7 linked regions of the Homo sapiens genome follow. The protein of the gene in region 1 interacts with the protein of each later gene in a biochemical or structural test. Each region holds a gene or a part of one and is shown on either strand. Other genes may lie near its edges. The genes, in order: CCDC134, DLG3, PALS2, APBA2, PDZK1, IL16 and SNTA1.

What was found.
Region 2: the proteins of CCDC134 (region 1) and DLG3 interact in a test that uses a peptide from one of them, tested with the Homo sapiens proteins (one large-scale study listed by IntAct).
Region 3: the proteins of CCDC134 (region 1) and PALS2 interact in a test that uses a peptide from one of them, tested with the Homo sapiens proteins (one large-scale study listed by IntAct).
Region 4: the proteins of CCDC134 (region 1) and APBA2 interact in a test that uses a peptide from one of them, tested with the Homo sapiens proteins (one large-scale study listed by IntAct).
Region 5: the proteins of CCDC134 (region 1) and PDZK1 interact in a test that uses a peptide from one of them, tested with the Homo sapiens proteins (one large-scale study listed by IntAct).
Region 6: the proteins of CCDC134 (region 1) and IL16 interact in a test that uses a peptide from one of them, tested with the Homo sapiens proteins (one large-scale study listed by IntAct).
Region 7: the proteins of CCDC134 (region 1) and SNTA1 interact in a test that uses a peptide from one of them, tested with the Homo sapiens proteins (one large-scale study listed by IntAct).

The regions. Positions count from the first base shown.
Region 1 is NC_000022.11:41,813,753-41,818,177, reverse strand, and holds part of CCDC134 (coiled-coil domain-containing protein 134 isoform 1 precursor), read right to left. Parts: coding exon 4,356-4,425; intron 1-4,355. UniProt on the Homo sapiens protein: Molecular adapter required to prevent protein hyperglycosylation of HSP90B1: during translation, associates with nascent HSP90B1 and the STT3A catalytic component of the OST-A complex and tethers them to a specialized translocon that forms a microenvironment for HSP90B1 folding.
Region 2 is NC_000023.11:70,499,951-70,504,375, reverse strand, and holds part of DLG3 (disks large homolog 3), read right to left. Parts: coding exon 4,327-4,425; intron 3,906-4,326; coding exon 3,796-3,905; intron 3,479-3,795; coding exon 3,387-3,478; intron 2,214-3,386; coding exon 2,107-2,213; 3' UTR 1-2,106. UniProt on the Homo sapiens protein: Required for learning most likely through its role in synaptic plasticity following NMDA receptor signaling.
Region 3 is NC_000007.14:24,579,523-24,583,947, reverse strand, and holds part of PALS2 (protein PALS2), read right to left. Parts: intron 1-4,425.
Region 4 is NC_000015.10:28,892,160-28,896,584, forward strand, and holds part of APBA2 (amyloid-beta A4 precursor protein-binding family A member 2), read left to right. Parts: intron 1-3,360; exon of another isoform or gene 3,361-3,450; intron 3,451-4,425. UniProt on the Homo sapiens protein: Putative function in synaptic vesicle exocytosis by binding to STXBP1, an essential component of the synaptic vesicle exocytotic machinery. May modulate processing of the amyloid-beta precursor protein (APP) and hence formation of APP-beta.
Region 5 is NC_000001.11:145,670,186-145,674,052, reverse strand, and holds the end of PDZK1 (Na(+)/H(+) exchange regulatory cofactor NHE-RF3), read left to right. Parts: intron 1-171; coding exon 172-396; intron 397-1,032; coding exon 1,033-1,323; intron 1,324-2,413; coding exon of another isoform or gene 2,414-2,446; exon of another isoform or gene 2,447-2,563; coding exon 2,564-2,617; 3' UTR 2,618-2,788; coding exon of another isoform or gene 2,789-2,809; 3' UTR 2,810-3,068; downstream 3,069-3,867. UniProt on the Homo sapiens protein: A scaffold protein that connects plasma membrane proteins and regulatory components, regulating their surface expression in epithelial cells apical domains.
Region 6 is NC_000015.10:81,290,441-81,294,865, reverse strand, and holds part of IL16 (pro-interleukin-16), read right to left. Parts: intron 4,414-4,425; coding exon 4,326-4,413; intron 2,311-4,325; coding exon 1,829-2,310; intron 1-1,828. UniProt on the Homo sapiens protein: Interleukin-16 stimulates a migratory response in CD4+ lymphocytes, monocytes, and eosinophils. Primes CD4+ T-cells for IL-2 and IL-15 responsiveness. Also induces T-lymphocyte expression of interleukin 2 receptor. Ligand for CD4.
Region 7 is NC_000020.11:33,436,614-33,441,038, forward strand, and holds part of SNTA1 (alpha-1-syntrophin), read right to left. Parts: intron 2,414-4,425; coding exon 2,228-2,413; intron 1-2,227. UniProt on the Homo sapiens protein: Adapter protein that binds to and probably organizes the subcellular localization of a variety of membrane proteins. May link various receptors to the actin cytoskeleton and the extracellular matrix via the dystrophin glycoprotein complex.

The sequences.
Region 1 (4,425 bases):
GGGGACTCTGGAAGCTGAGCCTATTTCCCCTGGACTTTGCCTGATGCACCTTTTCCCTTTGCTGATTTTGCTTTGTATCTTTTCTCTGTAGTAAATCGTGGCCATGAATATGACCATATGCTGAGTCCTGTGAATCCTCCTATTGAACCATCAAGCCTGGGAGTGGTTCTGGGAACCTGACACAGGTGTCCATGGGCAGCAACAGTCAGCCAGCCCCAGTAACAATGCTGGCTGATTAACTGCCATAAAGGCCAGTCAGACAATGGCCTGAATTAAAAGGTATCACCCTTGCTTGGATGACACTCCTTCCTAACAGCCATGCATGTTATATTCTTACTGACTATTGTCAGTGTCCTGGTCATCTGGAGATTACAAACTGGCAGATCAAAGATACCTACCCCTCTCTTTTTATTTATTTATTTATTTATTTATTTATTTATTTATTTAAGACAGAGTCTTGCTCTGTTGCCCAGGCTGGAGTGCAGTGGTGCAATCTCACCTCACTGCAACCTCTGCCTCCCGGGTTCAAGCGATTCTCCTGCCTCAGCCTCCCGAGTAGCTGGGACTACAGGCATGCGTCACCTCGCCCGGCTAATTTTTGTATTTTTAGTAGAGACAGGGTTTCACCATGTTGGCCAGGATGGTCTCAAATTTCTGACCTCAGGCAATCCGCCTGCCTCGGTCCCTAAGTGCTGGGATTACAGGTGTGAGCCACCATGCCTGGCGATACCTACCCCTCACCCCTCTTTAGGGCCACAGACTATGGAAACAAATTGTGGTGACAAACTAGACAGCCTGGCTCACTCGTTTAGATGCCCATCATAAAGCTCAATCTCTGAAAAGACCAAATGGAGTCAAACTGCTGATCAAGCCTACTTCATCCAGATCACTGCCACTGCCACCTAAACATATCATTCTACTTGGCATGGTAACATACCCACTACCAAGGAGTGGCACAAAACAGAGGACTGTATATTTCTGGTTCAACTACCTGAGTCTCTGGTTGGAATGGTACAGCCTGAGATTGTTAGGATTGTGACCACTTGGCTGAGTATCCTGCTTGCTGATTTCCCTGCAGTGGCCCATGTGGGTAAAGAGAAGAGATATAACAGGTCTCTATACATCTGTAAAAATGCCCTGGTCCCATTCATACCTGACATTTCTGAATGAAAGATCTAAGTGATAGTAGGCAACAACTGGAGAAAAAGTGAAACTATAGATGCTGGCATAGGACATATGCTTTTTGTTTTGTTTTGTTTTTGTGAGACAGTCTCACTCAGTCGCCAGGCTGGAGTGCAGTGGTGCGATCTTGGCTCACTGCAGTCTCCGCCTCCTGGGTTCAAGCAATTCTCCTGCCTCAGCCTCCTGAGTAGCCAGGACTCCAGGCATGCGCCACCACACCCGGATAATTTTTGTATTTTTAGTAGAGACGGGGTTTCACCATGTTGGCCAGGATAGTCTTGATTTTCCTGACCTCATGATCCGCCCACCTCGGTCTCCCAAGGACACATGGATTTTATAGCAATAATCCTGCCACCTGGGGAGGATATACCTTAGATCCCAGAAAGTGCAGGGAACAATTAATGTTCTCTTTATCCCTTAGATCCATCACTGCCACCTGGCAAAACAATCCTAGGGTCTGCCCAAGCCCAGTGGCAGCTGCAGCTGTCAATATGGCCAACTGTTGGGTGTCTCATTTCCATCCACATGATAGGAAAACTCACATGGACACGTCAGTACTGAGCTATTCTGCTGTGTCTAATGCCATCAAAGGTAGTTCTCAACAGTGACCTTGTGCAGACACACCAGCCAGCACAATTTTGTTTCAACCTGACAGATACAAATTCATCTGCTTTTCCTGATGTCTGAGTAGCCTTGGATTATACCATGTAGGCAACTGAGGCTGAAGCTCCACAGTGACACTGCCCTCAGGCTCAACTAAACATTGTTCTGGTGACTCAAATCAAGCGTAACATGTGGGAGAGAATGGGTCATGGAATGTCTCCTTATGGGGGCATGAGGGTTGCTTGGGTCCATCTATTGCCCCCTGTACTTATTGGCAGTAACATCAAAGATTGGCAGGTCAATCTAAACTCTCTTATGTGGGTGGTCGTGGATAACAGATTGGTCTTAGACAATATCCTGATTATCCAAAATGAGACTTACTGGTCCTCCAGGACCTTCACAGCTGGTTGAGTCCAGGACCCTGTTCAATATTGCAGGTTAGGGGCCAGACACAGTGACTCACACCTATAATCCCAACACTTTGGGAGGCTGAGACAGGAAGATGGCTTGAGCCCAGGAGTTTGAGATCACCCTAGGCAGCACAGCAAGAACCTGTCTCTGAAAAAAATAATAAATTAATTAGCCAGGAATGGTGTCGCACAGGCCTGTCGTCCCAGCTACTCAGGAGGCTGAGGTGGGAGGTCTGTTTGAGCCCAGGAGTTCAAGGTTACAGTAAGCTAGGTGGGTGACAGAGCTTGGGTGACAGAGCAAGACCCTGTCTATAAAAAAAATAATAATAATGTAGGTTGGCCTTACCCTGCTATTCAGAATATAGTTGATAGTAATCTTAATTAAATGAAGTATGAGACTAATTGACAGATTTGGTCCTAGCCTCTATCAGTCAGATCAATCAGACTGAATAGCACATTCGTGTGAAAATTTGAGTTAGGCCGGGTGCGGTGGCTCACGCTTGTAATCCAAGCACTTTGGGAGGCCGAGGCGGGTGGATCACGCGGTCAGGAGATCAAGACCATCCTGGCTAACATGGTGAAACCCCGTCTCTACTAAAAATACAAAAAATTAGCCAGGTGTGGTGGCGGGCGCCTGTAGTCCCAGCTACTGGGGAGGCTGAGGCAGGAGAATGGCGTGAACCCAGGAGGCAGAACTTGCAGTGAGCCGAGATCGCGCCACTGTACTCCAGCCTGGGCGACAGAACGAGACTACATCTCAAAAAAAAAAAAAAAAAAAGAAAAGAAAAGAAAATTTGAGTTAAACCAAGCCATGGAGGGCTTGGGCTTGGGGCAGACTGTTGGGGTGGCAATCCATCATGGCCCTGAGCATCCCTGCATATTCTTGCAGGGCACACCAAAGATACAAAGCCCTAACCACTCTTTACCTGGGCCATGTCTTAGGATTGTGTTTGCAGAGAGCAACCTCGAACGGTGTGGTGATGTCTCTTCCCAAAGAGCACATTTGCTGCGGTTCACTATAAAAATCATGAATTTCTCCAGCTTGGCAGTTCTCAGCTATGATGCACACCCCCTGCATGCACAGCGCCCACCTGGCCCCTCTGTGTCACCTCCGTGGGAGTTAGGGAACAAGATGAACCAACACAACCAGGCCAACAGTCTAGCTAGTGCCTTTGCTGTAATACAGTCCAATGTCTCTGACCTATCAGTGTCCATGAAACAGTAGCAGGCTAGCTTGTTGGCCTGGAGGCAGAATTAAATCCTAGACCCTTGAGACACCCAACACCCCTCCCGACACCAGGGTTTGACAAGTCCAGTCCTCCAGCCACCACAGCCCTTCCTTCCTGCCCCTCCTAGCCCTGTCACTTCCAATCCCTTCCTCCATCTATCGTATCTGTCCCCCCTTTTTTTTTTTTGATACGGAGTTTCACTCATGTTGCCCAGGCTGGAGTGCAATGGCACGATCTCAGCTCACTGCAACCTCCACTTTCCGGGTTCAAGCGATTCTCCTGCCTCAGTCTCCTGAATAGCTAGGATTACAGGCATGCACCACCACGCCTGGCCAGTTTTTTGTATTTTTAGTAAAGACAGAGTTTCACCATATTGGCCAGGCTAGTCTCGAACTCCTGACCTCAGGTGATCCACCCGCCTCGGCCTCCCAAAGTGCTGGAATTACAGATGTGAGCCACCGTGCCCGGCCTGTCCTCATCTTTTATCCCAAACTTGGTCTCCAGCTCTCAAAGCCCACCTCAGCCCCCTGGAACCCCTGGAATGAGAGCATGTACAGGAGTGCGGGATGGAAGCCCAGTTGGTGCTCAGAGGTTCAAAGGCAGGGAAGAGCATGGCCTGATCTCCCTAGCTACCCTGATATCCACCTGAAGTGGGATGCCTATTTTGTGCTGGGATGGGTTTGTTCATAGCCTCCTAACTACCCCCCATAACTGGAGTTCACATGCTGTGAACAGACAGGGAGCCTGAGGCTAAGAGGGGAGCAATGACTTGCCCACAGGCTCCAATGAGTCAGTGATATCTTCTGGACCCAGGCCCAGGCTGCCTGGCTCCAAGTCCAAAGCCACCCAAGGTCCCCAGCCCCTGCAGGCCTCGGTGTCCTATGGCCCAGCAGAGGCAAAGCAGACACAGGCATAGGCCCTGGCAGCTCACCTCTGTGCGGTCGATTTTAAATGGGTTCTGGAAGTTGGAGTCTTTCTCACTGATCCCCAGCTCCTGGGCC
Region 2 (4,425 bases), on another chromosome or scaffold:
AGCCACAGTTCATTGCAACTATCGTTTATTAAAAAATATATGTCTCCTTGGAAGAAACACTGGTAAACCCACTAGTATCATGCTTACTTTGAATCTTTGTTTCTCTTCCCTGGGAGGGGGAGGGCTGAGCACGGTTGAGACTTTGCCACTTAGTTAACATCAGAGAATCAACCTCCCTGCTCACCCCTCCTCACCAGAGTCACAGTCGGCTGTCACTTTATCCCTTTTTGCCTTCAAGCCATTGTACTGCCCAGGGAAAGCCGCTGTCCTTTCCTTATCCTCATCCTGGGTCCCATGCTTTATACAGTTAGCCTCATTCTGCTGGTTGGACAACTGTTAACAGAGTTCCCGGATTCGGCTGGTAGTGCTTAAAGCATCCTCAACATTGCCTCGCTTGCACCAGCCCTAACCCAGCGGGCTAGGAAACAAGTGCCTCAATCCTAGGGCCAAGCACTTCTCTGTTCTCCCCTGCGTCGTCCCTCCAGTATGGAGGCGAGGGAGGCACGTTGGCTTCAAAGGAGCACAGTGGGGTGGGGGGGGACCTGAACCACACCTGCTGCCTGCACTTGTGGCGGTGAAGATTCCCTTGATCACAGTCACTGCCATCAGACTCTGGGAAAAAGCAACAAGGTTTCACAGCTCACCAGTAAGCGAATCTTAGCTCTACAGCTCAAATGTACAGCATAAAGTCTACTTTCCTCTTGAAGAAACCATAAGCTACCAGCTGTTGGGGAGGGGCTGGAGCAGAGCATATGAAGCAGCTGCAAAAAAAAAAAAACCAAATCAAACTCATGACGCAGCTGGCCAAGCAAGCCAAGTGCTGTCCCGCCATCCCAGCACAGAACTGGAAGGCAAGTGACTCCCTGTCCCTGTTGGTGGAACCCAGGAAGGAACCTCAGCAGAGCCCTCCGTGTCCTCCTCTCAGCCCAGCCCCTGCTTTCCCTTCTGCTGACAGGACAACCAGGCCTGTGTCACCTACTCCATCACAAGGCCTGGCTCCTTCAGGACCTCATAAGCCTTTAGAACCTTGGCAAATTGGATTCTATGCATTCACTTAAATAGTAAAAGTAAAATTTGCAATAATGAAAAGGCTGACACAGTAGCACAACATGGTTTTGGTTTAACAGCAGCTTAAAAAGGAACAAAAAGGAAACCTCTCATGCAGACACATCAGGTGGCATAAAACAATAGGCAATTCCACGCGGAGCATCATTAGCCATTCTCTCTGTCCGCACACAGGACTCTGGCTGCACCTCAGGGGCAGCAGCTGCTTTCAGGTCAAGTCTCTCACCCTCTCACCCCAGGCAAAAGCCCTTCCTCTCCGGCCTCAGGCTGACCCCTCCTAGCTCTCAAGAGAATGACCAAATGCGAGTGCCCTTAGTGCAGCACTTGCTACCATCTTCAATCCCTTCCCAACCAGCTGGGATAGAAGATGCCATCTGATTGGAATATGAAAATTAAAGCATTTCTCTAATAACATAGTACCATTGATGAAGTCTCCATAGATTTTCTAACCCAAATGTGTGTGAATATATATATATTATATGAGAGTGTATAATATATATATATAATAATTTCTATATATTTTATATAAATTACATATATATATCTATATATAAATAAGATACTTTCTGTCGCCATTACGTTGCACCGTTCAGAGCTGCAAGACAGCAGTACAGATAGGGAGAAATGCCCAGGAGCATCTCATCATGTGGTGCATTTAGCTCACTTCACAAGCCGTGCAGCTGTCCAGAGTCTGTCTTTCCATCAGTCCTCCTCTTTTCTCTTCACTTCTGCTTGGTTTTTATGAAAACAATGGCTCTGATGGATTTTGCACCTGTGCTAGCGCTTGGGAAAGGTCCATGCAGGAATGGGCACAGTCACATGATGAATGAGATGGCATCATCCCAAAAAATAAACTGAAACAAACAAAAACTTAAAAAAAAAAAAAGAACAGGACTAGAAAACTTAATTTTTTTTGACATATCTAAAAAAGGGGACAAGAACAGTAGCATTTGTTCTCCCCATGGGGACAGGAATGAAGAGGGAGGAGGGAAGAGGGACTTGATTTCTTCTGTTCACAAGAGAATGGTTGGAGGGGATTCTTCAGAGTTTTTCAGGGGATGGGACCCAAATGTAGTGCCCAGACTGGTCCTCAATGATTTGTTTGATTTTGTTATAAATCTCTTCCAGTGAGTCACCCTGTACAATGGCTAAAGTGAAGAGGAAAACAAAATTATTACTGTGGTCCATAGCACATCCCCCAAACCCAGCAATCCTGCCTCTCCCAACAATCCTACAAGTCCCCCCTCCACCCCCTCACCCCTCACATGAAGGACATGTTCCCAGGAGTATGGGTTTGGGCTTGGGTTCACTGGCTGGCTGCCTGTGTGTTCAGGGCAGTAAGGGCAACCAACAAGGTACCCCAAGTCCAGGGCTTGAAGTCAACTCACTGAGACAGTGAGACTAAGTAGTAATGACCAGAAAAATGTGTTTATTCAAAAGATGTTTATTGAGCACCCACTATGTGCCAGACCTTGCAGTTCATGTTGTTCTTGGGTGCCATAAGGCCAGCAGCTTGTTATTCTAAAGCAGCCTTACTAAAAGATTTGGAAAATCGCAGTTCTCCACAGAAAGAACTGAAAGCCACAATTTCTGGCAAGAGGCAGCGCTCCTGGGCCCATCACATCTGCTGTATGTCAGAGGTCAGCCCAGCAAACAAGGACATGGATGCTGATGGTAAAGGGAGCTCTGAAGACCCAAGGTGTGTGAGGACATTTATGAATTCTTTACACAGTTAACCTAGTGTCACCACCAGCTAGAATGGATTCGGCACTGCCTTGCATATATTTATGTATATATATGTCACTGTACTTCAAAAGGTGAAGAACGTATTACATAGAAACCTTCCCAATGTTTCAGGAACTGACCTTACACACACACACACACACACACACACACAGACAGACAGACAGACACCCCAACAGACAACTTGAACAGCACACCGAGGAATCATCATCATCAACAAACGTTTATTCAGCACCTAAACATGCAAAGCAAAGTACTGGGGGAGGGGGAGTGGAGCTGAAACGGAGGGAGACAGAGTAATACAGGGAGCCTACAATCTAGTAAGGACAAGACAAAATGAACAAACCAACAATTCAAGGAAGCATTTGGTGAGTGGTTTATGCTATAAACTGGCTGAACTGCTATGGCTGGACACGGGGAACTTGTGTGCTTTGGAAAGGTTTGTGCTCAAAAACTTAAAAGCAACTGGAAACTCCGTGCAAGGTTTCTACATTCTGTCTACACCTCTTTGAGACACTTATAGAAACAGGTACCTGGCTAGTTCCCCAGAACCCCCCGCAGGGCAGCAGGAGTCTTACCTGTAAAGTACTCTCCAAATTCCTGCTCCAGTTTCATGGCTTTGTCATAGATCTTATTTGCTTGTTCATATGTCTGCCTTCGGTTCATTTCCCTGCCAAAGACAGAAGAAAAATAGTTCTGAACCAGATCTTATGTTCTGATTAACCATAAAGGATTATTCCAGGATCCCTAAAAATCTGCTAAGCTGCCCTCTCAGAGCAGCAGTGGCCCGTAGCTAACTCCTCAAACCTGCGTTCAAAAGTCCAACCATGAACATATGCACAAGCCCTCAAAACAGGAGCGCCCAGTGACCAGAGCTGGGGCACAGAGTTTCTTTCAAGTTTCTGCCCAGCAAATCACTTTCTTCTCCATTTCCCTTCCAGACCCGATCTTAGCTTGGTGTGTCTGAGTTCTCAGTTCAACACTTACATAAGGGCTTCAATGGACTTGGGCTTGATGAAAATGGCAATGGGGTAAAGTTGTGCTTGCTGCAGTCTCTTGATAGCATTGCCGGAAACATCTAAGATGCAGTGCTTGCCCTGAAAAAGCAGAGATTGTAACAGCCCAGCCACTCCCTATTCACCAAGTCCCAAGCAGAAATCCAGTGACATTCTAAACATCCACCTTGGCCGGGGGTGGGGGTGAGGGGAGGGGCACGAGGGCCACCCAAAGTGGCCTAAGAAATTCGATCTCTGAAGTAGACAGGCCCTACTTTTTGCTCCTATTACCCAGAAAAGGCCACATCTGTCCAGGGCCCCCTATTCCCTGTTGGGTAATGCTCTGGGGTGAGTTGTATGAAGGAGACAGATAGCTTCGTCAAGGCGCTGGGAGTATGCAGATGTGCTATGGCTTTGGTCAGCAGCACTGTTGGGCAGCTCCTGTGTTGGAAGGATAAGGATCCAAGTGGAACCTTGGCATAAGCATTGGCCTCCCCTTTGAGGCCATCTCCTGTACACTTACCCTCTCTGCAACTGCCCGCACTGACTGGATGCTGGTCCCATAGAGGTTATCATTAAATTGGCCCGCCTCGATGAACTTGTTGTCCTGAATATCTTTCTC
Region 3 (4,425 bases), on another chromosome or scaffold:
ATTCTCAGTAAACTATCGTGAGAACAAAAAACCAAACACCGCATATTCTCACTCATAGGTGGGAACTGAACAATGAGATCACATGGACACAGGAAGGGGAATATCACACTCTGGGGACTGTGGTGGGGTCGGGGGAGAGGGGAGGGATAGCATTGGGAGATATACCTAATGCTAGATGACAAGTTAGTGGGTGCAGCACACCAGCATGGCACATGTATACATATGTAACTAACCTGCACAATGTGCACATGTACCCTAAAACTTAAAGTATAATAAAAAAAAAAATTAAATAAATATTTAGCATGGGAAAAAAAAAAAAAGAAAGGATCTGAATAAGATATCCTCAAAAATGCCTCCTAGGATTTATAACCACTTTATTTGGGGGCAGGGGACCTTATTGAAAGTCGTGAAAAGTTTCTTTCAAGAAAGTAATGGTGAATGGAAACTAATTGTATAGTATCTGGTATTTCCAAATTGAATAGCATAAAATGATAATCTAACATTTTAATTGGGTGAATAGTAAAACTTTATAAAGATCATTAAATTCCTTCACGGAAAATTTCTCTACCTAGTTGTTTTCAAGAGCTTAATGCTAAGGATTGGTTGGTGATGGCAAACTGAGACTACTTTGTCTCACAAGATAGTCCAACCTTTTAAAAATAGGGCTTACATTTTTTTTTACTGACCTCCATTCCAAAAGATTACTAGCTAAAAAATAAAAAACATTTAAATTGATTTGTATAAAAATATGAATGATTTCCAGGCACGGTGGCTCACGCTTGTAATCCCAGCACTTTGGGAGGCCAAGGCAGGCAGATCACGAGGTCAGGAGTTCAGGACCATCCTGGCCAACATGGTGAAACCCTCTCTACTAAAAATACAAAAATTAGCTGGGCGTGGTGGCACACATCTGTAATCCCAGCCACTCAGGAAGCTGAGGCAGGAGAATCACTTGAATCCGGGAGGCAGAGGTTGCAGTGAGCCGAGATCACGCCACTGCACTCTAGCAGCCTGGGTGACAGAGCAAGACTCTGTCTCAAAAAAAAAAAAAAAAAAAAAAAAAAGCATGACTATCATTTCAAAAATAAGCAACTTTAATAAATTAAACTTCTTTACTCAATTATCTGAGTTTCTTATATCAAAGCTCTTTATAAGAAACCCAATTATTGGAGTTTCTTATACCTTCTAGCTCCTTATACAAGGATAGAAGATAGAAGGATATTAAAAGAGGAATAAAAAAAGCAAATAATTTTTTATTTATGTAACTAAAGTTAGGTTTTCCATATAACATTTTATTATGTGCATATAGACATACATATTCTAGTAAATAAAAAGAAGACAAATCCACTCAAAGATAGCCACATTCAAACTTCAAATAATATTTATTACAGTTAATGAAAAAAAAATCAATGTTTCTTTTAGAAAAGTAACGCAAGCACTAAGCTGGTAATACCAATAAAGTATTTATAGTAATATTCTATAGATTATTTATAAACTCTGCCATTACAGAACTAAAACAAAATGTTCTGAAACATTCAAGAATTTGTAAACAACTGACATTAGCCCTCACCATATCACCAGATTGGATGCTGTTCAAATGAGCTGCGACTAGAATTAGTATTCCCAATTCCTTAGCAAGCCATTATTACAAAATAGGATTTCATTTTCTTTATATGCATCATATGCTGTATTTGATACAAGATGATGGGAGTTATATTCTTTATATGAAAATCAGTTGATGCTTTGGGAAGACCCCAAAAAAGCAAGTGACAAAACAACAAAACAAAATGATAAACTGCTGTAAAATTAAGGGTAAAACAAGTATAAACAATTGAGGAGTCATAAAACATTAGAAATCTAGATCTTATATGCAGACTGCTTCACAAACTTTTAAGTTCTCACTCCAAAGCTGGTAATCAGTGATAATGCATTGGCTTATATAAGAATGATGACCCAGAGTTCCTGGCAAAAGACACATACTTAAAGAAAAGACTGACACATGAATGTAGATTTTTAAGTAATATATTATTTAAGATATGTGTCAATCGTTTATGACTCTTCACTTAAATCACTTTCAGTCAGCCAAAACTACCACCCGTTCTGATCAAATCAGATTAAAGGCTTTTACTCGTAATAGAGGCATCAAAATTTTTTCTGGATACCCCAAAAAAGCTATTGGCAATAGTTGCCTTTAGAATAACGTTTCTCGGCTTCATCACTACTGACATTTTGGGCTGGATGACTCCTTGTTGAGGGGGGCTGCCCTGTGCACTGTTTGCAGCATCCCTGACCTATACCTTATACATAGTAGTAGCAACACCTTCCCAGTTGTGACAGCCAAATATTCCTGGAGATTGTTCAGCAAAATCATCCCTGATTGAGAAATACTGACTTAGAAAGTGATGAAGATGGGACAAAAAGACTTATCAACTCCTCCTCCCTTTTCTGAACTATTTAAATTACCATTATGGTAGGCTGAATAATAGTCTCCCCCTCCACAAGATATCTATGTCTTAATTCCTGACACCTATGAATGTCACCGCATTTGGAAAGTTTCACAGGTGTGATTAAAGATCTTGTGATGGGGAGGTTATTCCAGAGAGCACTAAATGCCTTCACAAGTGTCCTTCACAGAGGGAGATTTCCCTTTCTCTCTGACACACACACACACACACACACACACACACACACACACACACACACGTGGGGAAATGAAAGACACAGAGCTGAAAGATTTCAAATGCCAGCCTTGAAGACTGCAGTGTGTAGCCGCAAGCCAAGGAATGCCAGAAGCCACCAGAAACTGGAAAAGGCAACAAGTAAGTTCTCCCTTAGATTCTTTGGAGGAAAAATGTCCCTGTTGACACCTTGATTTTGGCCCAATTATACTGATTTCAAATGTCTGGCCTTCAGAATCGTAAGAGAATACATTTATTTATAAGCCACTAAGTCTGTGGCAATTTGTCACAGCAGTCACAGAAAACTAATACAATCATAAAAAGATTTTAGTGACTTAAAAAACATAATTTTAAAATCTGCAACAAGCAGATGAGATAATGTGTGGAGAGCATTTAACATAGACCTTGAAACATGGTGGTATCTATAATATTATCAAATGTTTACATCAGCATTAACTATGACTAAACGCCAACCTCTTGATAGCAAGAAGAAAAAACAAGGAAGCTCAACTAGTAAAACTGGGTATATTTGTTCAAGGCTCATGTGAACGAAAACACATAAATCATCTACTCATGTGATGAGTGTACTTGCCAGTTGTATAAGCACTGTGTTATAATTTGTTCTGTACTGAAAAGATAAATTATGGATGAGGCCACCTAATGATGGCTTCCTTGGAGAACCATGCCTGAATATTCATTAGTAGAAAAGAAACAAGAAGGCAGAGGAGGGAAGAGTATGCAAGAGAGTAAAGCAATGGGGATCAATGAGGTATGTGCAGAAGTATTGACCTGGTGAGAGACCAAGTTCCAGCATTAGAGTTACCTAAATTATATACAACCTCAAAAGCTTTGTTGAATGATTTCATTATTAAAATGGAATATTCCACAGGATGTATTATTTTACACTCAAATGGTGGCTCCTGGGGATTTTAACAATATAAACATGCTCCTGCCCCATACCAGACCTACTAAATTAGAATCCTTTAGCGTAGGATAGCTCCAAAGGATTCTGATGCCCACTTAGGTAAAGAATCCCTGCCAGAGTCACTTCATGGTAAAAATGACCTACAGAACAAAATATAAAGTATTTATCCTTGAAATATGCATTTAAGTAAATCAGCTTAGTATTTTCCTAAGTTAAAACTTCTCCCAACATGTACCCCTCTGAGTTCCACCACAGAATTTCTCTAAACGAATCCCTCACCTTTCACTTTTCCTTTCCTAAGCATATGGCCCCCAGTCTGCTCAGAGAATCATTTTCCCCACACTTTCTCATACATTTTTCTTTAAAAGTCCCACATATCTCCAGCTGCCCTATTCTATCTTTTAAAAATATTAATCCTACCCAACTAATATCTAATAATATCCTACAGAACAAAGCAACTATGAAAAAGTTCCATTAATATGCTATACAATAAACCAAGATTTATAAAAAATTGCTCTATTGCCTATTCTAATAAATATTCTAAGTAGATTTATCAAATGAAATTGAAAATCACTTTTTATAAAAGATTTCTTCCAAAAACATAAGAATTATGAACTGGGTCTATAAAAAGGTGATAAGCTAAGCTCCTTCAATTAAATCTTTACTTAGTGCTACTAAGTAGGTAACAAAGTGCTGGGCTGTGTGAAGGATACAAAGTATCGGAAAATCTCGGTGATTTATAAACAACTTTACCAGTACTGGGGTAGAAGAAAGGGGAATGGAGAAGATGGAAAGGGGTAACTAAATACCACTCAAAAGGTA
Region 4 (4,425 bases), on another chromosome or scaffold:
TGCCTCACGGGTTCATGCCATTCTCCTGCCTCAGCCTACCGAGTAGCTGGGACTACAGGCACCTGCCACCACGCCTGGTTAATTTTTTTGGATTTTTAGTAGAGACGGGGTTTCACTGTGTTAGCCAAGATGGTCTCGACCTCCTGACCTCATGATCCGCCCACCTCGGCCTCCCAAGGTGCTGGGATTACAGGCGTGAGCCACCACGCCTGGCCCATGTTTTATCTTTTATACCATATTTTTACTGTGCCTTTTCTATGTTTAGATAGATACTTGTGTTACAGTTGCCCACAGTATTCAGCGTGGTAACATGCTGCCCAGGTGTGTAGCCTGGGAGCAATGGCCTGTAACCTATAGCCAAGGTGTGGAGTAGGTTTGTATAAAGTATGCTCTATGATGTTTGCACAATGATGAAATTGCCTAATGACAAATTTCTCAGAACACATCCCTGCCATTAAGCGATGCATAACTGTGTGTATATGTGTGTGTGTGTGTGTGTATGTGTACGTATATATGTGTGTATGTATGTGTATATATATATAAAATTTTTTTTATTTGGTTGGTTTTACATTCCTGGAATTGACTCTCCAGCAGGGCAGCTGTAAATATGAATTCCTCCGAACTGTTGTATGCATTGTTAATTTAGTAAAGTACAGTTTATGGTTTCCCACCGTTGGTTTAATTGTCAACTGTCTTGGAAAAATCCATTGTTGCAAAAACAGGAAAACCACTAATTGAGTGAATGCGTGCATTTAGGGATGATGGATTTCTCAGGTCTCTCTGGAAGCAAGTGTGTGCCTTGTGCAAATAAAACATAGTTTCTGTTTCTCAGTCTTTTGCTGTAATAAGTGAGCCATGTGCTCTAGCATCTGTCTGGATTATCCGGAGCTGGTGGCAGCTGTCACGGGTGTGGTGCAGTGGGGCCAGGCATGTGTTAGGAACTGGAAGCTCTGGGAAGCCAGGCTTTGCCTCCACGTGTGAGCCAGCTGTAGAGCGTCACTGCTCAGAGTTTGTCTTGACTCATCCTGAGAAGGGCACGTGGAGATCTGTGTCCCATTCCTCACCAGCCACTGAGTTACTATGGATGGAGGAGATGAGATGTGTGCAACTGTTCTGCTACAGTAAAGCACTCAGTCAGTGCAGTCACCAGGTTTAGGGTGTGTGTGTGTTTTACCAACTTGCCTGCTGGGTTTCAGACACCTGGCACTACCTCCAGCCTCTTACTGATTCTGGCTAGTACTTGTGAAAGCCGTCAGCTGGGTGATGAATGGACCGATTTTGGCCGCAGGTCCCTGCACTTCCCATCTGGCCTGACTGCTAGATTCTGAGCCCCTGAGGCAGGACTGAGTGGGTCACATTAATGGCTGATTGTCTCGGGAATGGCATTGGGTGAAGTCGAGGTTTTCCTGACCCACAGCTCCTAGTAGAAGTGCCTTTCTTTTGTGCATGTATTGTGAAGATTCTGCCTGTGAACTTTCTCTACCCTTTGAGTCCTAAGGTTCAGGTACTTGGAGAGGAGCGTGTCATCGTTTTGCAGGTTGGATGTGCGGTTGTTGGGGAAGACATCTTTGTGCTGTGTTGGGTTGGAAGCTTTGAGAGCAGAAGCCCCTCCAGACCAAGAACTCCTGATTATGTCTCTCCCTTGGGCTTTCGCAGTTTTCAGCTTCTAAATTAATTGCATTTTATTAAGTAATGGTTTTCTTCTTGATCACAGGCGTGCCTGTGCTTAATCAGCACTGACGACTGGTGCTGCTTCAGTTGATTTGATACACCTAGAGGCAGCCTCATCTCCAACTTGCCTTGACTTCGTCTGGGGAGCTGCCGTGGGGGACCCCTGGACTGGCAGCATTCCCACCCCTCACTTTGGCAACCCTGGTCTAACTCCGTACGTGTTACTCCTTTTATCTGTCACATAGGGTGGCTTAATCTAATAGTGGAAACAAAGGGGTGCGGGACACTAACATGGTAGGTCTCACCTTGCCTGTCATTCACCTCTCAGTCCTTTGACACTCAAGGACTCTGCAGTGGTAGAACCGGGGGCAGGTACCCTTCACTTTTCTTACCCCCGAGTCCCTTTGCCTGGAGCTCTGTCCATCCATCCACCCATCTACTCAGTAGGTATTTTCTGAGCAGCTACTGTATTCCAGCTTTCTTGTTCCCAGTTTAGAGCTGGGTGGGATCAGGAGGGAGGGCATGGAGGGGGCTGCTGGAGAATGTGCAGTGGCATCAGAGCCCCATTCTGGCTCTGGGTCCAAGGCCCTCCTAGAGAGGCACAGTCTGGCAGATGTGAGAGCCCCATGGTAGGTTGGGGTGGATCATGGACCCCATCCTATAAGAGTGGGTGGGTTTACCCCTTCAGAGCCCAGGCCAGAAGAGCCCTCCAGGCAAAGGGCCAGCCTGGAATGGGGCACCCTGGGCACAGGGGGGACTATGTGGTTTGTGTAGGTTAGAGCTGGAGATGGGGGTTGGAGGGCAGTTGCTGACGATTAGGAGCTTGGTGGCCCTAGAGAGTCCTTGCTGTGGGTTGGGAGCGAAGCAGATGGGCCAATAACAACGCATAGTTTACCAAGCGAACTCTAGGAGAGTGATTTCTGCAGCTGGCTTCCCTAGCAGACAGGTCAGAGCGTGGGAGAAGGACGCCGTTAGGGGCATGTTCAGGGGTGCATCTAGAGGCGAGGGGAGGGTGCGGGGAGGTGCTGGTGGAAGATGCACTGCATGGGGTGGGGAGGGGCTCAGTAAGAACACAGGAGGGTGGCGGGGGCAGGTGTCTGGCCAAGGCAGCTCCTGCGTCATTGGGGGGCTCCAGAGCCCGCTCCCTATGTTCTGTAGGAGGCGGCTGCTGCTGCCAAGTCCCAGCCTTGCTAGTGAGGACGTTTAATTTTACCCTTTAGAGATTTACAGGATTTCTAGATTAACTTGCCCCTGTTTTTCTAAAAGAACGACAAAATCCATGACAAACCGTTCATCACATTATTAACTGGCTCACCCAGCCTTAACCTGTGCAGCTCCGCCAACTTACCCTCGGCACACAGGGAGGCCTGGGTCCCCAGGCAGCTCCAGTGTGCAGGGGTGTGGGTGACAGCGCAGGTGTGGCCTCCCTGCTGCTGGCCTCCGGTGGCTGGCCTCAGCCTGGCTGGGCACGCAGGCTGTCCTTACGGGGCTCCCAGTAGCTTTCTGGTCCTGCGTCAGGAGAGGGGACTGCACAGGGCTTGGGAAAGAGAGCGGGAGCAGCAGTGCCGCAGGATGATGGGCTCCAGAGGCCTCTGCAGCAGGGGTACTCTGGGGAGACATTCGGGTGCCTCCTGTCCATGGCCTCGATGTGCCAGGGCGCCTGCAGCTTGGACCCTCTTCCCCTTTCAGGCGGAGGGAGCTGTTCATCCTCTGGGGGCTGCTGGGCCAGAAATATCTCTTACCTGATAATGTCAGGCATCAGAGGTTCCTGTTTCGTGGGTAAGTTGCTGTATGTTTTGGGGCTGCAGTCAGTCTGTTTTTCTCACTGGCATGGCATGGGGGTGGGGGGCAGTATTCCCTCCCATGAGGCCCATGTCCACCTCATTATCTCTGTCTGCTGGGACTGCGCTGGATGCTGGCTGAGGCTGCCTTTGTTACTTTCATGCGCCATAACTGGAAAGGCCTGCTGCTTGTTAGGCTCCTTAGAATTCTGATTTGAAGGCTGGGCATGGTGGTTCATGAGGTAATCCCAGCACTTTGGGAAGCCGAGGAGGGAGGCTCGCTTAAGCCCAGGAGTTTGAGACCAGCCTGGGTAACGTAAGGAGACCCCATCTCTACAAAAAAATAGAAAAGTTAGTCGGATGTGGTGGCTCACGTGTGTGGTCCTAGCTACTCGGGAGGCTGAGGTGGGAGGATCCCTTAAGCCCAGGAAGTTGAGGCTGCAGTGAGCTGTGACTGCGTCACTCTACTCCAACCTGGGTGACAGTGAGAACCTGTCTCAAAAAAAATATCTGATTTGAAGGAGAGGGAGCTCTATTTGATGCGGGGGTTGGGGGTGGAGAGCACCTCTGTGAGTAGACCTTTCTGTCATCTTGATGGTTTTAATCAGATATCTAATATTATATTAGTAGTTCACGTCAACTGATGTCCCAAACCCACTTTCTTCTCTTCTCTTCTCTTCTCTTTTGAGACAGAGTCTCATTCTGTCGCCCAGACTGGAGTGCAGTGGCACGATCTCAGCTCACTGCAAGCTCCGCCTCCCGGGTTCACGCCATTCTCCTGCCTCAGCCTCCCCAGCAGCTGGGACTACAGGCGCCCGCCACCACCCCCGGCTAATTTTTTGTATTTTTAGTAGAGACAGGGTTTCACCGTGTTAGCCAGGATGGTCTTGATCTGCTGACCTCATGATTCGCCCACATCGGCCTCCCAAAGTGCTGGGATTACAGGCATGAGCCACCGCGCCTGGCCTCTTTC
Region 5 (3,867 bases), on another chromosome or scaffold:
TTTTATACCTTTCCTGGTTGGGGTAGTAGAGGAATTTTACAGCCTACAATCAGACACATCCAGAAGAAGAGTGGAATATGTATGATACCTTAAAAATCAGCACATTTAACAAAGTATAACTTACTCATGGTTACAACTAAGTTAATGTTTTTTCCCTTTATTTTTCAAAAGGCTCATTTTTCTCCATTTCTCTACTATCAAAGTCAAGAACTGCCCAATGGCTCTGTCAAGGAGGCTCCAGCTCCTACTCCCACTTCTCTGGAAGTCTCAAGTCCACCAGATACTACAGAGGAAGTAGATCATAAGCCTAAACTCTGCAGGCTGGCTAAAGGTGAAAATGGCTATGGCTTTCACTTAAATGCGATTCGGGGTCTGCCAGGCTCATTCATCAAAGAGGTATGGTAATCTGGTTCCAGCAGCCCAACAAACACAGCCACAATTAGGATAGTCTCAGCTTTTCCCACCCATTGATGGCTTAGTAGAGAGGTTCCATTGAAGGCACACACTGAGGGGTCTCACTTGGGTTCAGATAAATGTTGTCATGGTCCCACACCCTTTAGGTTAGCTACCAGTACATCATAAGCTCACGTTTGTTTGTTTCCCAAACATCTGTTCCAAACAGTGTGAGTTGACTGAACTCTAGTTGACAGTCACTATCAACCCTGATTGGCAGTCATATTTGTTTGCTTCTGTGCATTTGGCATAATGCCCCTTACCCTGTAGGGACTGATAAGAATCCCTAAAGCTTTCAAGTTGGGAGTGAAGAAGGGGGACCTATTTATCCCCCTTCATCCCAGAAGACATATGATGCTGAACCACTATTTATAATACCACTAATCATGTGAATATGGAAGTTATAGCCTTCATAAATATAAAAGCATTAGAACACCTTTCTCAACTTCTATACCTCAAGGAGAAATAATAACATGATTAAAAATAAATTCTTGAGCTCCTCATCTATTCTCTTAAGGAGAGCTAGTCTGATGTCCCCTTCTCTGTTTGAAATTGATAACTCAGAACTTCTGTTCACAGGTACAGAAGGGCGGTCCTGCTGACTTGGCTGGGCTAGAGGATGAGGATGTCATCATTGAAGTGAATGGGGTGAATGTGCTAGATGAACCCTATGAGAAGGTGGTGGATAGAATCCAGAGCAGTGGGAAGAATGTCACACTTCTAGTCTGTGGAAAGAAGGCCTATGATTATTTCCAAGCTAAGAAAATCCCTATTGTTTCCTCCCTGGCTGATCCACTTGACACCCCTCCAGATTCTAAAGAAGGAATAGTGGTGGAGTCAAACCATGACTCGCACATGGCAAAAGAACGGGTGAGTGGGGGCCTATTTCTTTTCGTGATCTAATTTACTAGAGTATGGGTACAGTCCCTATGAGTATATTTAATGTCTATGTTTGCCACAGATTTTTTTAAAACTAGAAAATGAAAATGTAAAGATAACTAACAAATCAAGTTATTGTAGAGGACAGGAGGCAGTATAAGAACAACAAATTTCTTACTTTCATAGCATGCAGCTGACAGCAACTGTCTAGAGCTAATAAATCAAGAAGTAAAAAGTTTATCAGTATTGTAATGGGAACCCCCAAAAGAGCCTGAATCGGATGATCTAGATATGAATTCTGGTTCTGTCATTTGTCAGCTGTGGGGAAATGGATTTATTTGTTCTGTTCCTCAGTTTTCCCACCCATAAAACAGGAATAATTTGTAGGATTGTTATCAGGATCATGTTAACTAAGATTAACTATATTAAAGTGCTTTGAATAGTGGCTGGCTCATAGTGAGCATGTAAGTGGTGACGGTTAAAGACAATATTGTTTAAAACAACTGACAGGTAATCCAGTTTTATTACTAGGAAAGATTAAGCATTCTCTATATTATTCTCTATATATTTGGATTAAATTTCTTGGTAAGTCTCAGTTTTATATTTTTGCCCAATTTTTCATAGATGAACTTGAGGTCGAAAAGTAAACTGACTTATCCAAGTTCATAAAGGAAATTTATAGCAAAGCCGAGACTCTAAAAAAGTTTAATTCAATGTTGTTCTTCTTTCCATTATATTAATTCTGCTAATGGGTGGAATATTCATTTTAATAAACTCAGTTTAATGAACACACACAATGCCCACTGATTTGTATTCAGGAATGCTTAATAAATACTATTAGTTGTATTAGTTGTCATTTAAAAATTCTGTAATTTCTCTTTAGGAAGTCAATATCCTAGTCTTATAAAAAAGAAATATACACAGACATTAAGGAATTTGTTAATGTGTCAAACAGCAAGTTGAAAACAATCAAGTGTAGAATTCAGGTCACCTGACTTCTAGTCATACCCAGATCATCTGATTCAGGCTCTTCTGGGGGTTCCCATTACAATACTGATAAACTTTTTACTTGATTTATCAGCTCTACACAATTGCTGTCAACTGCATGCTGTGAAAGAAAGAAATTCTAGTGAGTGACTCTACTCCCCGACTTAAGTCATGCAACTCTAGAATAGATCATCCCTCTTTCATTACTCTACCATTTGTAAATTCTTTGTTTTCTTATACACAGGCCCACAGTACAGCCTCACATTCTTCTTCCAATTCTGAAGATACAGAGATGTGATGAAAACAAGTAATAGCTTTGGCTGTTTATTTGATAGCTGTTTCTGGGTATTTAATAGGAATCCTTTCTCAAGGAATGAGTTGTGACCTGTTTACTGTCTCTTTAGAAGAAAAACTCCACTGGAAACCATTCACCATGTGTGATTGTCTTCTGTTATCATTTGTCTTACAGGCGGCTATTGCAGACGGCTAATTTATGCTTAACTTAGGAAGAGATAAGGCAAGAGCTAGATTTTTTTCATGTGATCTTTTCCAAGCTTCAACTTAACTTAACTACATTTCTCTGTATGATGATGTCTCTTACTTCTACAGGTTCCTTGAGCACCAAAGATGATTCATAACTCTGTATAGGTGACAGCTGCTTATAAAAGCATCTTAGCAGATAAGCCTATTAAAATTGTGCTTTTGTAACAATGTTGTGGTTGCTAGAATAAATACCATTAACAAATGCCTTTTGAGTATGCTTGATAGTGCTTTTGTTTTGGATTCACTTTTTATGCTTTAACCTTCATTTGCCTCTAGAAACCCAAAACACAATAAAGTACAGAATAAGACCTTAGTAATAAAATTCAGAATTTTCTTAAATTGCATGTCTGAGTGTTCTAAAAATTTTTCAACATTTCCCTTTCACAAGTGACTTATTCCCCCAGTTAAGTTATTCACGGTTTCACCCCACAGCGTGAGGGGCAGATAGAAAAAAAAAAAAGGAAACATCACTACCGAATTGAAAGTAGGGTATAATACTAAGTTCACAGGAAATCAAGAAAAAATGACATACCTGAAATCTCTCTTTTGGTAAAATCTATTTCAGGTGCATACCACCCCTTTCCCGGAAAAGAACAGATAACCTCTTTCTTGGTTATTTTAATGGGGCAGGATCAGATGAGGAGGTGTGGGATGCTAACTGATGTTAGATCACACAAGCATAATAAATACCAAGCTATGCTTGATAAAATGAACGTAAGGCAAAAGTGTTACAGTCTCTGATTTTAATGAGTCAATCTCAAGGCAAAGCTATAACCTTTTCCATGTGAACCTTAAAACGGAAATCCTACGTGTTTGGCTCAGCTACCATAGACATGTCTTGCCCCAGAGTTCCAGTGTATTTTTCACCTTTAGTTTCTTGGCTCCTCTCCGCCTCTACACCAGCCTCATATCCACACGGGATGCTCTCTGCTGAGTATTGTCTTGAGTTAGTTCTCCCTCTCATGTTCTGGCTGATGCTACTCATGGTCATAGTATCACCTGACG
Region 6 (4,425 bases), on another chromosome or scaffold:
GAAATCCCCAGGAATGGTCAAGGAAATTTTGAGAGTGACCTCAAGCAAATTGCTTCCTGTTTTCTATTGCGTGCTATGATCCTTTCTCTGTGACCCCCGCCTCTCCAGTGCCCAATAAAATTATGTCGTGCTGATTGCTTTTATGGAAATGTTTGTGGGAGAAGGATCTGCTGGCCACGTGGGACAGACCAGAGCAAACAGAGGAGGGCAGCTGCAGAACGGCCTTGTCTCCAGGAGACGGTGCTGTTGGGGGCAGGTACAGGAGGGAGCCCTGTATTCTGCTGAGGCACACAGGGCATGAAAGATGACCTGTGGGAAGTTCCTTGCCTGGGCTTCCCTGAGGACACCCCAGTTCCTTCTCCAGACGCCTTACTCGGGAATATTCCCTGACCCTATGTGGCTCTGCCAAGGGCATCACTGGGACAGACCTGCTGTGGCAACTGCACTCCTTTTCTGGGCCTCCAGGAGGAAGGCAAAATGACTGGCTTCTCAGCTGGCTGCTCCTGATTTGCCCTTCTGGACTCATAGGTCTCAGGCCCAAGGGAAAATGAAATATGGGCTTAAAAGAGGGGGTGGGAGAACAGATCCATCTGATAACTCCATCATGTGTTGCTAACCAGCCACATCCTGCCAGCGCTCTGCAAAACTGCACTTCCTTTTTAGTAACCTGGCTTCCTCCTCCCTCCTTCACTTTCACCCCTCCTACTCAACATCCCGTCTCCACCGCTACCCCTCCTGAAGCTTGCCAACCCTCACTGTAGATTGTTTTAGGGGATTTCCAGAGGCCCCCTCCCACCTGCCCACGGTGTGCTTAAGGGAAGGGCCAGGGCCCCTGCAGGGCCATTCCGTGATGGGGGAGACAGCTTCTGGGTAAGGATGGGAAACTCAGCATTGCATAGTGGGTAACTGTGACCCACTAGCAATGTGAACTTGAGCGAGTTTCTCAGTTCCCTCTTTGCACAACTGGGACTCTCACCATCAGGTGGTTGTAAGATTTAATTGACACAATGTACATGAAAGTACTCAGTGTGGTTAGCCTGCGCATAAAATGGTTCTAGACACAGCAGCTGTCTGTCAGTCAGTCTGCCTTTTATGCAAGGGGTGGAAAGGAGGGCTTTAAGGGGCCTGATGGGGAAAGATCATGGCAATGAATGCTAATATGCCTGAGATGCTGTCAGGTACTTGCCTTAAGTGGTTACCTTTAATCCTCACAATAGCCCTTGGAAGGAGCCACTCCTCCCGGGTTTAAGCAATTCCCTGCCTCAGCCTCCTGCGTAGCTGGGATTACAGGCACCTGCCACCATACCCGGCTAATTTTTGTATTGTTAGTAGAGACAGGGTTTCACCATCTTGGCCAGGCTGGTCTTGAACTCCTGAGCTCATGATCCACCCGGCTCAGCCTCCCAAAGTGCTGGGATTACAGGCATGAGCCACCGTGCCAGGCCCCTTTTTAGTTATTTAAGCCACTATTCTCCCTACAAGCAGGACACTCAAAGATCCACATGCAAAGACTGAGACCCTGCAGGGGCCCTGGTATTTTTCCTTCATGGTGAGTGAAAAATGACACAAGAAAGGAACCTTAAATTCCAGTGTGTTATGGGTGGGAACCCAGATGCCAGCAAGCAGGACTGGGACTTCAATTATCTGTCAACCTTCAAACCCATCTTTTCATGGTCAGTCCTCAGCTGAGTCCTAGGCAACAGTTTCTCTCTGGTGGAGCAGGAGAAACTTTCATTCTGGCCCTGCTAACACTAACTTGCTAATTTGCCCATGCTCAAGATTTGAGTCTGGTCCTGGAAACACTCAACCTGTGGACCCATCCTCTTACCTGGCCACAGGTGGGTGGGGTGTGCCCAGAAGAGCATGAGGAGTTCTCTCTCTCTTCCAGACTCTTCTGAGGGTCACTGTCACTTTTAAAGTATTTTCTGGGTGGAGGCTTGGGCTTGGAGGACATAGGCTTTCTCACCAAAATCTCAAAGGATTTCTTCAGTCTCAGCGGCGGGTGGCTGTCCCGGCTCTCTGGGAGGGGTGGGCTCTCCTGGGGCAGCCTGGAGGATGCTATAGAAAGCACCACTGGCTCCCGTGCCAGAGGCAAGCTGGGGCTGTGTGTGCTGATGTCCACGTCAGAGGACGGCTTCTCAGCACTGCCACTCCCAGGACTTCCCCCTGGGGACCCAGACATGTAGCTGCTGTCACTGCTGGAGCGGATCATGACCTTCTGAGCCCTGCGATGCGGGGGTGCTGAGTTCTTCTCTCGTTCCTTCTCCAAGGTGGGCCGCCCGTGCCAACTGCTTTCCAGCCTTTTGACACCTGTGTGGGAAGCACAAGAGAATCTTCACAGCTGAGCTTCAGAAAACAGAAATACCCCCTGGCCTCACCTGTGACTGCCACGGGCAGCACACTGCACATCGGCCATCTGCTTCTTATCTGAAGTCACTGTGGATCTGGAGTATGGCAGTCTTGGTGTTGGTCCCTGGCGAGCTGTATGACTTTGGGTTGGGAAAATCATTCAAGCTTTCTGAGCCTATGACTGATGTATATGGAGATATGCCACCCAGATCACCCATCGAGGAAGGGCTTGGTGTCCCAGCTGTGGGGAGTGCTGCTGGCAGACTACTTTCAGCTGTGGGTCCCTCCAGGGGCTGCCACAGCTGCAGACAGCTGCCTTGTCCAATGGGGCAGCCCATCTCCAGGGACTGCTGGAGATAGGGTTACAGAGGCCCAGCTATGTTGGCCAACATAGGACAACTCTAATGGGGACTTTGGCTGCAGAGCTCCAGGGCTTGGCTGAAGCTGTTGGGTGTGCACCTCAGCTCCGTCCTCCCTCTGTCTACCCTGCCTGCTCCCCTCCCTGCCACAGGTAGTGAACCCCAGGACACTGCCTGCAGACCAAACTCCATCTCAGAGTCAGCTTCCTGGGGGACCCAACTCCATTTCTGCATCTGTAAAATGAGGATGATAATTTTAAAGTCACTGGGGTTATTTTGAGGCTCAATAACAAAGACAGAGAAACTACCTGTCAAGGCACTTTGAATCTTACACGAAGAAGTCACTATTTCTTTCCAGTTGAGGGTGAGGTGAGGGCAGAAAGCCGCTATTTCTTAGCCACTGCACCTTCCTCCCTCCCTCCCCATTAGCCCTTCCTGGTTCTCAGTACCCCCTACCCTAGTTTCCAGCACTAGGGCTACCCACACATCCTTGAGAGGCCCTTCTCTCTAGTGGTAAGCTGTCAAGGGTGCCCCTTTCCTAAAATCACAGCTTGAAGGGGTGGGAGAGGATTGAAATCTAGTCTCTTGCTCAAATTCCAGCTCATTCTGAGAGACCAAGAAAGCCAGAGGAGCCCCATGAGAGAGAACCAAGGCCAGCCAAGCTCCTAACTCACTTTCTCTTTAAATAAAAAGTTTTCTTTTTTTTTTTCCTGATCATGAAATAATGCATCCTCCTTAGAGAAAACTCAGCCACAAGGAGGAAGGAATGAAAGTAAAAATTCACTTCACCTGTGTTCCTATCAGCCAGAAATAACTACTGTCAAAATTTTGGTGAGTTTCTCTGTCATGCTTTCCCGAGCATATATGCATGTTGGGTGGGTAGAAATAATAAACCAGAGCTGAAATAAATTGTGTTCTGTTCTTTTCTCTGAACATTTCCCCAGATCATTTAATTTCTTGTCAATATCAGTGCCAATGGTTGCATGTTGTTCTTTCATAAGGATGTTCCATGGTAGACGTGATTAATGCCCAATGGCTAGGCATGGGAGTCAAGCCAGCTGGATCTCCATTCCAGAGCCTCTGTGCTCTAGTGGTATGACTTTGAGTAAGAGAGTCTCTGAGGGCCTCACTTTTTCTTATAAAATTTGCATAAAAATTATGTGTGAATGCATGAATTAGCATAGTCTCTGATTTATTATAAGAATTATAAGAATTAAATAAATGTCAGAATTATATTCCCAAATGTTAGTTTTTCTAATATTCTATTATTATAAACTAGGGGCTGCAAACTCAAGTGCCTGCAGGGGCTATTGTGTGAATGGCAACTTGGTACAGGATAAAGGGAACGGTGGAGACCACCGGGAGCTGGAGAGAGCCTGGCACATTTGTAGCAATTTAAATTCAGATGCTTTTAAAATCTTGTGTCTTCCAAACAAAGCAAAAATATAAGCTAAATTTAGCTGGTGGGCTGCTAGTTTTCAGCCTTTGTCTACATACTATGCTGGTCTATGGTAAATGCTGTTACTATTCCTTGGATAGAGGATGAGTTAATGGATAAATCCTAAGCTTTCTAAGAAGGCAAAGATATTTTACATCAAAGTTCACCATTTGTCTTACCTTCCAGACTCCACTGATGCCTCTCCTTTCCAAACTTGGTGTTTTCCACAGCCTGGGCCACAGCTTCTTTGAGTTGCTGTTCAGAGACCTAGAAAATATC
Region 7 (4,425 bases), on another chromosome or scaffold:
TCCCTTAAGCCCAGGAGTTGGAGACCAGCCCAGGCAACATGGTGAAACCCTGTCTCTACAAAAAATTGGCTAGGTGTGGTGGCTCACGCCTGTAATCCCAGCACTTTGGGAGGCCGAGGCAGGCAGATCACGAGGTCAGGAGTTCGAGACCAGCCTGGCCAATATGGTGAAACCCTGTCTCTACTAAAAATACAAAAAAAAAATTAGCCAGGCGTGGTAGTGCGCACCTGTAGTCCCAGCTACTCGGAAGGCTAAGGCAGAAGAATCGCTTGAACCTGGAAGGCGGAGGATGCAGTGAGCCAAGATCGCGCCACTGCTCCAGCCTGGGCGACAGAGTAAGACTCCATCTCAAAAAAAAAAAAAAAAAAAAGCTAGGCGCAGGGGCTCACACCTGTAATCCCAGCACTTTTGGAGGCTGAGGCAGGTGGATCACAAGCTCAGGAGTTTGAGACCAGCCTGGCCAATATGGTGAAACCTCATCTCTACTAAAAATAAAAAAATTAGCCGGGCATGGTGGTGGGTGCCTGTAATCCCAGCTACTCAGGAGGCGGAGGCAGAAGAATTGCTTGAACCCGGGAGACGGAGGTTGCAGTGAGCCGAGATCATGCCACTGCACTCCAGCCTGGGCAACAGAGTGAGACTCCATCTCAGAAAAAAAAAAAAATTAACCAGGTGTGGTGGCATGCATCTGTAGTCCCAGCCACTCAGGAGGTTGAGGTGGGAGGATTGTTTGAGCCCCGGGGGGTGGAGGGTGCATTGAGCCAAGATCATACTACTGTACTCCAGCCTGGGTGATAGAGCAAGACCCTGTCTCGAAAAAAAAAAAAAACAAGAAAAAAAAATGCATCCATGGCATTTAAATAGATATACCTAAAATATAAAATAAAACTTTACATTTTATTTTCTTTATTTAAATTTTATTTTATTTTATATCTGGGTCAACCAAGGACCGAGAACCTATTTGCTTCTGTGGCCTCTTGGACACTCCTTTAGGGAAACCAAGGCAACCCACCAGGATTTGGGCCTGGGACTCAACTCAGCAGCTTCTCTGGCCGTGTTATTCTCCATCAGCCCCCGCCACCTCCCTGTGCCTGTTCTGGGCCATAAGCCAGAGACACATTCCTCAGGCCCCCACGGGGCTTCCAGAGCTGACAGAGTTTGAGGAAAGGGCTGAGCAAAGCAGAAACCTCTTGAGAGACATGGCACAAGATGGTCATGGGACAACCTCAGCAGGAGGCGTGTAACAACTGATGGGGAAACCGAGGCCCACAGAGGGCAAGGGTCCCACCCAAGACCACACTGTGAGGGAACAGTGGAGAAAGCCATTCAACCAAGGTTCCTCCACAAAACTCCTCTCTGATCCTGGCTGGAAGGATTTGATGTCCTACTCTATAAAAGCCAAGGCCTCTGGGCGTGGTGGCTCATGCCTGTAATCTCAGCACTTTGGGAGACTGAGGTGGGTGGATCACCTAAGGCCAGGAGTTCAAGACTAGCCTGGCCAACATGGCAAAACCCTGTCTCTACAAAAATATAAAAATTAGCTGGGCATGGTGACGCACACCTGTAATCCCAGCTACTTGGGAGGCTGAGGCAGGAGGATCACTTGAACCCAGGAGGCAGAGGTTGCGATGAACCAAGATCATGCCACTGTATTCCAGCCTGGACAACAGAGCAAGATTCCATCTCAAAAAAAAAATAAAGTAAAATAAAAGCCAAGGCTTCTCCCAAAGGAGGATGGGTCTTGGGGTTTTAAGGCCCAGGCACTAAAAGAACCTGAAGTCAAGAGCTCTCCAGGCCCCACAGGAAAGAATCTGACCTGCCCCTTCCCCAGTCCGCACCCCTCTCTCCCTGTGTCACTCAGGTGCTGGCACACTCTGCCATGTACATTTTTGCCCTAGTCGCAACAACCCAGAAAGGCAGGAGCTACATCCCTGTTTTACAAATGAGGAAACTAAGGATCAGGGAAATGAAGTGACTTGTCCAGGGCTACACAGCTAGTGACTGGAAGACAGAAAATGCAAATCAGGTCTGCTTGGCTCTATGCCAACTCTCCCTCCACCACCCCACACTGTCTTCAGGCAGGTCCCCAAATTCTGTTTCTGTTTTCAGTCCTGCCCACCTCCCAGCCCCCAGTGCTGGGATGGGGCCTTCTGAGGCCTGGGGGAGGTAGAGAAGCAGTGGAACACCTCCACCCAGCCCCTCTGAACCCTGGAACGTCAGTGCTTACCCTCCAGCACCACCTCCTTGCCTGTCTTCTTGAGGACCTGCACCGCCTCATCATGGGTAGCAGAGGACAAGTCTTCCCCATTCACAGACAGGATGGCATCCCCCACAAAAAGGGCCTCTGTCTGGTCAGCTGCCAATCCCTTGAAGATCTTGGAAATGAGAATAGGCATCTTGTTCTCCCGGCCGCCTGCACAGGTACAGAAGGAGGACAAGACTTAGGCAGATACTCCAACACTTGGGAGTCACATCAAGACACAATTATTTCTGAAGGCTTCCCTTGGTGCCTAGCCCAGTGCTGGAAAAGGCAATGGGAGAATAAAGGGAATCTGAGAAAAATCTTGGAAGTTTGGGACACTAGTAACACTAATAATAAATCATTTTTGATTAGGTCCGGTGGCTCATGCCTGTAATCCCAGCACCTTAGAAGGCTGAGGTGGGCAGGTCACCTGAGGTCAGGAGTTCAGGATCAGCCTGGGCAACATGGGAAAACCCCGCCTCTACTAAAAATACAAAAATTAGCCAGGCACCTGTGGTCTCAGCTACTAGGGAAGCTGAAGTAGGAGGATCACTTGAGCCCAGGAGGTCGAGGCTGCAGTGAGCTGAGATTGTGCCACTGCACTCCAGCTTGGGTGGCAGAAGGAGACCCTGTCTCAATAAATTAATTAATTAAATAAATCATTTTCAAAATTCATAATGCTATAGTTTGATCCCTGGATCTTTTGATTAAGTGCTTTGGGTGTTCACCAGTGTTTGTGCAACTTACAAAGTGCTTCAATCACTTTTTCTTAAATGTTTTCGATTTTCTCATGTAACCCATAAATATATATGCCTACTATGTACGCACAAAAATTAAAAATGAAAATAACCGGACAAAGTGGCTCACACCTGTAATCCCAACACTTTGGGAGGCCAAGGTGGTCGGATCACTTGAGACCAGTAGTTTGAGACCAGCCTGGCCAACATAGCGAAATCCTGCCTCTACTAAAAACACAAAAAAGGGCCAGGTGCGGTGGCTTATGCCTGTAATCCCAGCACTTTGGGAGGCCAAGGCTGCCAGGTGGATCACCTAAGGTCAGGAGTTCGAGACCAGCCTGGCCAACATAGTGAAACCCTGTCCCTACCAAAAATACAAAAAATTAACTGGGCGTGGTAGCGGATGCCTGTAATCCCAGCTACTCGGGAGGCTGAGGCAGGAGAATCACTTGGACCCAGGAGGCGGAGGTTGCAGTGAGCTGAGATCACGCCATTGCTCTCTAGCCTGGGCAACAAAAGTGAAACTCTGCTCAAAAAAGTAAATAAATACATAATAAAAAAATAAACAAATAAAAAAATATGGCTGGGCGTGGTGGCTCACGCCTGTAATCCCAGCACTTTGGGAGGCCAAGATGGGCAGATCACCTGAGGTTAGGGGTTCAAGACCAGCCTGGCCAACATGGCAAAACCCCATCTCTTCTAAAAGTACAAACATTAGCCGGGCATGGGGGCGCATGCCTGTAATCCCAGTTACTCGGGAGGCTGAGTCAGGAGAATTGCTTGAACCGGGAGGCTGAGGTTGCAATGAGCCAAGATTGCACCATTGCACTCCAGCCTGGGCAATAAGAGCGAAACTCCATCTCAAAAAATAAATAAATAAATAAATAAATACAAACACAAAAAATTAGCTGGGCCTGGTGGCACATGCCTGTAGTCCCAGCTACTCAGGAGGCTGAGGCAGCAGAATTGCTTGAACCCAGGAGGTGGAGGTTGCAGTGAGCCAAGATCACACCACTGCACTCCAGCATGGGCGACAGAACAAGACTCCATCTCAAAATAAAACAAAAATACAAAAATTAGCCAGGCATGGCGGTGTGTGCCTATAATTCCAGCTACTCAGGAGGCTGAGGCACGAGAACTGCTTGAACCCAGGAGGTGGAGATTGCAGTGAGCCGAGATCGCACCACTGCACTCCACCCTGGGCAACAGAGCAAGACTGTCTCACACACACACACAAAAAGGCAACAATGTGGGAACCCACTGATACCCCTCAAACCGGAATCAAGAGACAAGTCGGCTATTCCTATGGCCTCAAAAGACTGCTTTAGCAATCATAATGTTTTACAATCCAAAGTCCAGGCTGGAAACCAAAGCCTTAGAGTCTAGAGATTCTAAAAACCTGCCTGAATGGCATCTTGGATACAAAAGAAGCTAATACATTTTACT